Linked DNA regions of Homo sapiens. The protein of the gene in region 1 interacts with the protein of each later gene in a biochemical or structural test. Each region holds a gene or a part of one and is shown in the gene's direction. Other genes may lie near its edges.

The links. Proteins that work in one complex are often made in the same cells at the same time.
Region 2: the proteins of PPL (region 1) and KAZN form a complex in vitro, tested with the Homo sapiens proteins (one study listed by BioGRID).

The regions. Positions count from the first base shown.
Region 1 is NC_000016.10:4,885,104-4,888,655, reverse strand, and holds part of PPL (periplakin), read left to right. Parts: intron 1-437; coding exon 438-554; intron 555-1,428; coding exon 1,429-1,521; intron 1,522-2,608; coding exon 2,609-3,552. UniProt on the Homo sapiens protein: Component of the cornified envelope of keratinocytes. May link the cornified envelope to desmosomes and intermediate filaments. May act as a localization signal in PKB/AKT-mediated signaling.
Region 2 is NC_000001.11:14,601,643-14,605,194, forward strand, and holds part of KAZN (kazrin), read left to right. Parts: intron 1-3,552. UniProt on the Homo sapiens protein: Component of the cornified envelope of keratinocytes. May be involved in the interplay between adherens junctions and desmosomes. The function in the nucleus is not known.

The DNA.
Region 1 (3,552 bases):
TGGAAAGGACTGGTGTCCAGTGGAAGGGGAAAGCTGCGTGAATCAGCACACATCCACCTGATGGATTATAAAGTCAGCAAGCTGGTAAACATGAGAAGAGGTGGTGGCAAGGTGAGACAGGGTTATGGTACGATGTTAAAAGCAGCAGCAGAATGTGAAAATCTCTAGGCATGTAGAAAGGCTGGGAGGGGAATTCAGGGGGCACTTCTTGTCTCATATGTTACTGAGTGATGGAGCTATGTACTGCTGAGATATCAGTAATTCTCAAAACCTCCTGGAAATCACTGCAGGGTGCAGCTGTGAGGAAGACCCACGCAGATTATAAAACCAGCACATGGCACAGGGCAGGTCTGGGTCAGCCTGAAGGGGTACAGGAACATGTCTGTCTCTTCTCAGCTGTTTTAATCTCCCCTCTGCCATGTCTCTCCCTCATGCAGGACTATGAGTTAGAAGCAGAAAAACTAAGGTCTCTTCTCGACTTGGAGAATGGAAGGAGAAGCCACGTGAGCAAGAGAGCCAGGCTCCAATCTCCTGCCACCAAAGTGAAGGAAGAGGTGAGTTCCATGGGCCAGGCGGCCTCGGGACTGAGGTGGAGGCCAAGCTGCCCTGCTCCCCAGGGAGCATGGTGTCACACGCTGGCCTCAGAGATGCACACACAACAGGGAAGCCACTGAGAGCCCTCCTGCATGCAAACAGGTTTGGTAAGAGATGAGGAACTTGTTCTAGGGCAGTGACATCAATATGCCTAGAAAGACAGCAAGGCCGGGCGCAGTGGCTCACACCTGTAATCCTAGCACTTTGGGAGGCCGAGGTGGGAGAACTGCTTGAGCCCAGGGGTTGGAGACCAGCCTGGGCAACAAAGCAGGACCCCATATCTACAAAAATATTAGCCAGGCGTGGTGGTGCAAACCTGTAGTCCCAGCTACTTGGGAGGTTGAGGAGGGAGGATCACTTGGGCCCAGGAGTTCAAGGCTGCAGTGAGCTACAATCACACCATGGCACTTCAGTCTGAGTGAAAGAGATTCTGTCTTTAAGAAATAAAAATTTTTGAAAATGCAGCTGAACAGAAGTGTCAGGGTCAGAACCATGGATCTGGGAAGTTCCTGTTTTGCTCACCTCAGTAAGTACAGTGGAGGGCTGATATTAGTCTCCTGTACACACAAGAGAGAACACTGGTGCTCTAAGAGGCAGAAAGACTTGCTCAAAGTCAGTGTGGCCAAGACCCTGGCCTGGATCTTCTGCCTCGAGATCCATTTTTCTCTCCACCGGTGAGGCTACAGTCTAACTCCAGGCAGGAGTGGGCAAGAGCTATGCCTCTACCCCCAAATTCCACACTTCTCAAGAACCACGTCCACGCTGTCTAGCTCTCTGTTGCTTACCCTGTTGACACCTGTTTGTTGACCGCTCTCCTAATCCTCTTCTCTGCAGGAAGCAGCACTTGCCGCCAAGTTCACTGAAGTTTATGCCATCAACAGACAGAGGCTGCAGAATCTGGAGTTTGCTCTGAATCTCCTCAGACAGGTAACTGATCTTAGTAAGAAATTCTACTTCAGGCTGTTCTAACAGGTGACAAATACAGACTCTGTCTTAGAGAAATGGTTTGTGAATTGATGGAAGTGTCCCCTTGCTAACGTTTCTGGGCAGGGCCAATGCAAAGACTGGCCCGAGCCAATGCTTCTACTGACATGAGAACTTATTCAACTCAGTAAACATCTGCTGAAAGTGAATGCTATTTTCAGCTGGGCATGGTGGCTCACGCTTGTAATCCCAGCACTTTGGGAGGCCGAGGCAGGCGGATCACCTGAGGTCAGGAGTTCGAGACCAGCCTGGCCAACATGGTAAAACTCCGTCTCTACTAAAAATACAAAAATTAGCTGGGCGTCGTGGCGCATGCTTGTAATCCCAGCTACTCAGGAGACTGAGGCAGGAGAATTGCTTGAACCCAGGAGGTGGAGGTTGCAGGGAGCTGAGACTGTGCCACTGCACTCCAGCCTGGGCAACAGAGCGAGACTCTGTCTCAGAAAAAAAGAAAGAAACAAAAGAAAGTGAATGTTATTTTCTGAAGTCCATGATGTTGATGACAGCATTGTTTTTTAATAGCAAGACACTGGAAGCAGTTCACTCTTCATCAGCAATGGGCTAAACTGCGGTCTGTCCAGAGAGCGGAAACAATGCTGCTGGTAAATCCTGAAGCAGCACTCTCTGTGCTGAGCTGGAATGAGCTCTGTAAGTGCAGTGAGCAGCAGGAATACCATTTGTGCAGGAGAGATAAACACATGGTACATACTACAGACAGATATTCTTGTGTGAGCACAGATAGCATCTGCAAGGCTGACAGACACGCCCTAGGACGGGGACCAGAGGTGGGAGACCGTGGTTTCATTTTAAACTCTTCCACAGCTCAAAAATGTTTTACCTGATTAAAAAAAACCCCAAACTAGTTGTTTGATCCTTTTTGAAAGTAACCCTAGAACTCTACAACTAACATGAACTGGCACTGAGGGAGTCCCTTGGGGACCACAGGACAGCCACTCTGACCAGGTGGGGACAGGCCCTACATGTGCTGCCAGAGCCTGGCTTTAACCTTGTCTTGTCTTCTCCATCACAGCAGCCGGAAGTAGAAGTGACCCATGAGACCCTGCAAAGGAATAGGCCGGACTCTGGAGTGGAGGAGGCGTGGAAGATCAGGAAGGAACTGGATGAGGAGACTGAGCGGAGGCGGCAGCTGGAGAACGAGGTCAAGAGCACCCAGGAAGAAATCTGGACCTTGAGGAATCAGGGGCCTCAGGAATCGGTGGTGAGGAAGGAGGTGCTCAAGAAGGTGCCGGATCCCGTGCTGGAGGAGAGCTTCCAGCAGCTGCAGCGGACGCTGGCAGAGGAGCAGCACAAGAACCAGCTGCTGCAGGAGGAGCTGGAGGCACTGCAGCTGCAGCTGCGTGCCCTGGAGCAGGAGACCAGAGACGGGGGGCAGGAGTACGTGGTCAAGGAGGTCCTGCGCATCGAGCCTGACAGGGCCCAGGCGGATGAGGTCTTGCAGCTGCGGGAGGAGCTGGAGGCACTGAGGCGGCAGAAGGGCGCCCGGGAGGCAGAGGTGCTCCTCCTGCAGCAGCGTGTGGCCGCCCTGGCTGAAGAGAAGAGCCGGGCGCAGGAGAAGGTCACAGAGAAAGAGGTGGTGAAACTGCAGAATGACCCCCAGCTGGAGGCAGAGTACCAGCAGCTGCAGGAGGACCACCAGCGCCAGGACCAGCTCAGGGAGAAGCAGGAGGAGGAGCTGAGCTTCCTCCAGGACAAGCTCAAGAGGCTAGAGAAGGAGCGGGCCATGGCCGAGGGCAAGATCACCGTCAAGGAGGTGCTCAAGGTGGAGAAGGACGCGGCCACCGAGAGGGAGGTCAGCGATCTCACCCGCCAATATGAGGACGAGGCTGCCAAGGCTCGCGCTAGCCAGAGGGAGAAGACGGAGCTGCTCCGAAAGATATGGGCCTTGGAGGAGGAGAACGCCAAAGTGGTGGTGCAGGAGAAGGTGCGGGAGATCGTGCGGCCAGACCCCAAGGC
Region 2 (3,552 bases), on another chromosome or scaffold:
TCGTAATACACCTCCAGGGAGGCTCCCAGAGGCTCAGCTCCTCAGGGTTTCTGACTGTTCTTCCAAATTAGTCTTGTGTTTTCATTTTGTCTGTGTTGGTGCAGTTCAATGGGCCCAGACCCTAAGAGTGTTTAAGTGCTATTGAGTTATCAGTTTTCAAATCAAGGTTTTGAATAAAACGAGTATCTTTGCATTTCAAAATGCAACCGTGTAAGTCATCTTTTAACGAAAGGGCATTATGCACATATTAAATGCATGCTAATGTAACTTTAACAATATTAGTACAAATGGTTTTGGGAAAGAGTCACCTTTTGCTTCCTCTGCCAAGAGACTGTTAGATTCATTTTCAAATGTTTTTGTTTTTGTTTTTTAAATTCTTTTTTTAAATGAATGAAGCAAACTCATCAATCCATCATTGGCTGTTTTGTTCCAGGGATGACAACGGGCAGTAGGTAGGTTGGTATCCCCTTTTGATGAAGAAAATTTGGGTTTTCCTAGCGGGTTAATGCAGTGTGTCATTTAAACAAAATATTAACTTGGTTGGTACTCCCTGTGAGCTGGCATGGTTGCTATGTAACAGAATCTAGAAAGTGAACTGCTGAAAATCTGGGCTTTCGGCACTTCGGAGGATATTCTTTCGGAATCTGTGTTGAAAGAATTCCTGGCAGCCAGCCCATCTTGTCTCTCCCTCCTGCAACTGAGTTGGATAATCCTTAATGAGAATGCTGGCGTACAGTGCAGAGGGCGTCCGTGCAGGGTGACACATTTCAGAGCTCCAGAGGCTGCCTTTTGGGTCGGTGGGGTCACGGCAGCCTTTGACAGGTGGACAGAAGGAGGCTTGGAAAGAACAGAGCCAAGCATTTGTTCCAATTCATCTTGTTGTTGGTAGCCAGAGAAGGGATTTGTTTAAAGTAACATTTCTAAGCTGTTTTCCTCAGCATAACATCTCTGGGAAAATGTGTTTAAAATGCTTGCTGTTCTTTGAGGGGAAAATGTAGCAGTTTGTTTCTCTGAAAAAGTTTTATCAGCTGATGAATGACTAATATTAGATTCAGTTGGTTGCTTTGCTATGCATAGAACAAAACAATTAAGTGCTATGGTACCCAATTCAAATAGGTGTTAACTGTATATAACAAAATACTTAATGCCCAGTAGGATGTATGCCTACTGTCATTAGTTTTCTTTGTTAAAGAAATAATTGTATTTGTATTCCTATGCAAGTGGACGTGCTGATAGCATCTTTCTTTGGTGTGGAGGACTTCCTGCCTACTGCATTTGTTAGAAGGGGATGGAGGCAAGGGTCGGTTTCCTGTACCTTTGTACATTTCCATAAATGCGTGCAAGTTGTATTTTTCTCTCCAGGCATTAAAATAGGCTGTTACTTAAGGCCTGACAGCTCTCATCTACCATTACTACAACACTGGAAACTCTTTCGTGAAGTATAAATTACCTTTGGAGTGAATTGAATGTGTGAGTAGTCTGTGGAGACGCTAGACACTGTCGCTTTGCAAAGTAAGTTCTGTCTTTTGGCATCCCCTTCTCAATTCATTCTGCCTCTGCTCTTGTTTTCCTAAGTAGACTTTTATCTTTTTTGAGAAAGAGAATTTTCAAATGGCAGAGAGGATGGAACAAAATGTTGGGGAATCTCGGGCCTTCTGTTAGCTTGCCACTAAGTTACAGAGCTCAGCAAGTAGCCTGCGCCATGGTTTTCCAGCCAGATCAAGGGGTTAAAATAGAGTGTGTCTTTTCCTAACCTGTCATGGGATGGGGATTCAGTCTTCTCCCTGAAAATTGTCATGTGTGGTCACAAAGAGATTACTTACAGATCAGTACAGTGTGGTTGAAATTACTTATTGATTGGGGATTATTTACTATCTTTCCATTGTCTTTGGAAAATGCCTTCAAAGGACCTCTTAAGTCAAGTCTCTGATTCTGGTTAATTTCATGCTTCCATTGTGCACTTCATGATTTTTAGTGGTTTTCCAACACCTCTTTGATGCACCCCAGAAGTCTGAGCTGACCTGACTCATCTAACAGGAGCCTGGTCACATATCTTTCCAGGGTAAGGCATGATAGGCCCTCTCTCCATCCCTTTACCCTCTTACTCCTCAAGAAGACTGTTGGCACTTTTTAGGAATCCTATAGGGTTATAATGTGTGACTTCCTGGCTGCCAGTGTGTTTGTAGCAGATGGGCTTGGCAGGTGGCAAGAGCTCATTGGAACTTTGCCTGCTCACCGTGCATATCATATGGGGCCCAGAAGGTCAAGCTTGGGATTTGGCCACATTCACTGCATGTTTTCTTTATGTATTATAAATCTATATATTCATTCCTGGGCTATGTAGGTAAGGACAGTGAAATCAACACGAACTCCTCTGTTCTTTCCATACCTTAATGGTTTGCCTGAACATTGGTCCCTGGCTTCTTACCCCCTGCCATATATCAGGGGGTTCTGCCTGCTGAGCCCAGAGAATGGGTTTTTAAGTGATGTTGCACGTGGAAATAGGTCTCAGTGTTTGGGCTGCATATTAGGGTGAGTAGCACAAAATATGGCAGGAGTGTCACCGCCAGCAGTCATTGCACTGCCTTGGTGCCTTGAATTGCAGGCATAGTGGGTTCAGAAAGAATGATTTAGGAAAAGACATCTTTCCCGAAGCCAACAGGGTGGCCATCCACAGGGGCAGATCATACCTGACGATTCATAGCAGCTAAGAGTTCTGCTGACCCCTGTCACCACTCTCCAGTTCCCCTGCCACCACCCTCCAAATCCCCTGCCAGGCCCATCTCAGTTGTGGAGAAGCTGGAAGAAGATCAGGGAAAGGAACGCCTTCTTCCTCCCCGTGTGGTTGCACGACACCAGAACATTCTTGCTTGTTTGATGCAACCTTGATCCAAGTGGTGGAGGCGAGGTTGTGCTCTGTGGGCACTCCTGCTACCCCCTTGGAGTCCTAGGCTGCTGGAAACATGAAAGAAGCTGAACATAGTTTTAATGAGTTTGGCAAGAACAACTGTTTGAGCAGGTGGCTGCTGTGTGGTACAAGATCATTGGGGCTAAATTTATTCTGCGGGCTTTGTTGGCTGGGTCATGTCAGACCCTTGGGTCAGGCTTCTGAAAGGTCCCTGCCCCTTTACTTTCTGATGAATTGAGACCTCAGCACAGGAGCTCAGATGGAGCTTGGAACAGGCAGTCCTGCAAGCAAAGAGCCCCAGGGCCTCTGCCCACTTCTCCAGTCAGGCTGGAGAGGGGAGAGAAGTTGGGGAGAGGAGGTGTCCTGCCCAGCTCCCTTCTCCTCTGTCCTCTTCCACCACAGCAAGCGCTATGTTACCTTTGTGGGGATGTAAAGGCCTTCCATTCCCAATATTACCTCTGCTCTACAGATTGTGTGAAGTAATGAGTCATTAAGAACAGAGCGCCCCTTTTAAAGAAGCTGATATTCTCCACTCATCTTTGCATACCTCACTATTATTATTCTCAGAACTTACCTTTTGGGCATGCCACAAGACGCTGGGGATTCTGGGACCATCTTGAAGCCTGTAGTTTCTTTCTCTTTGG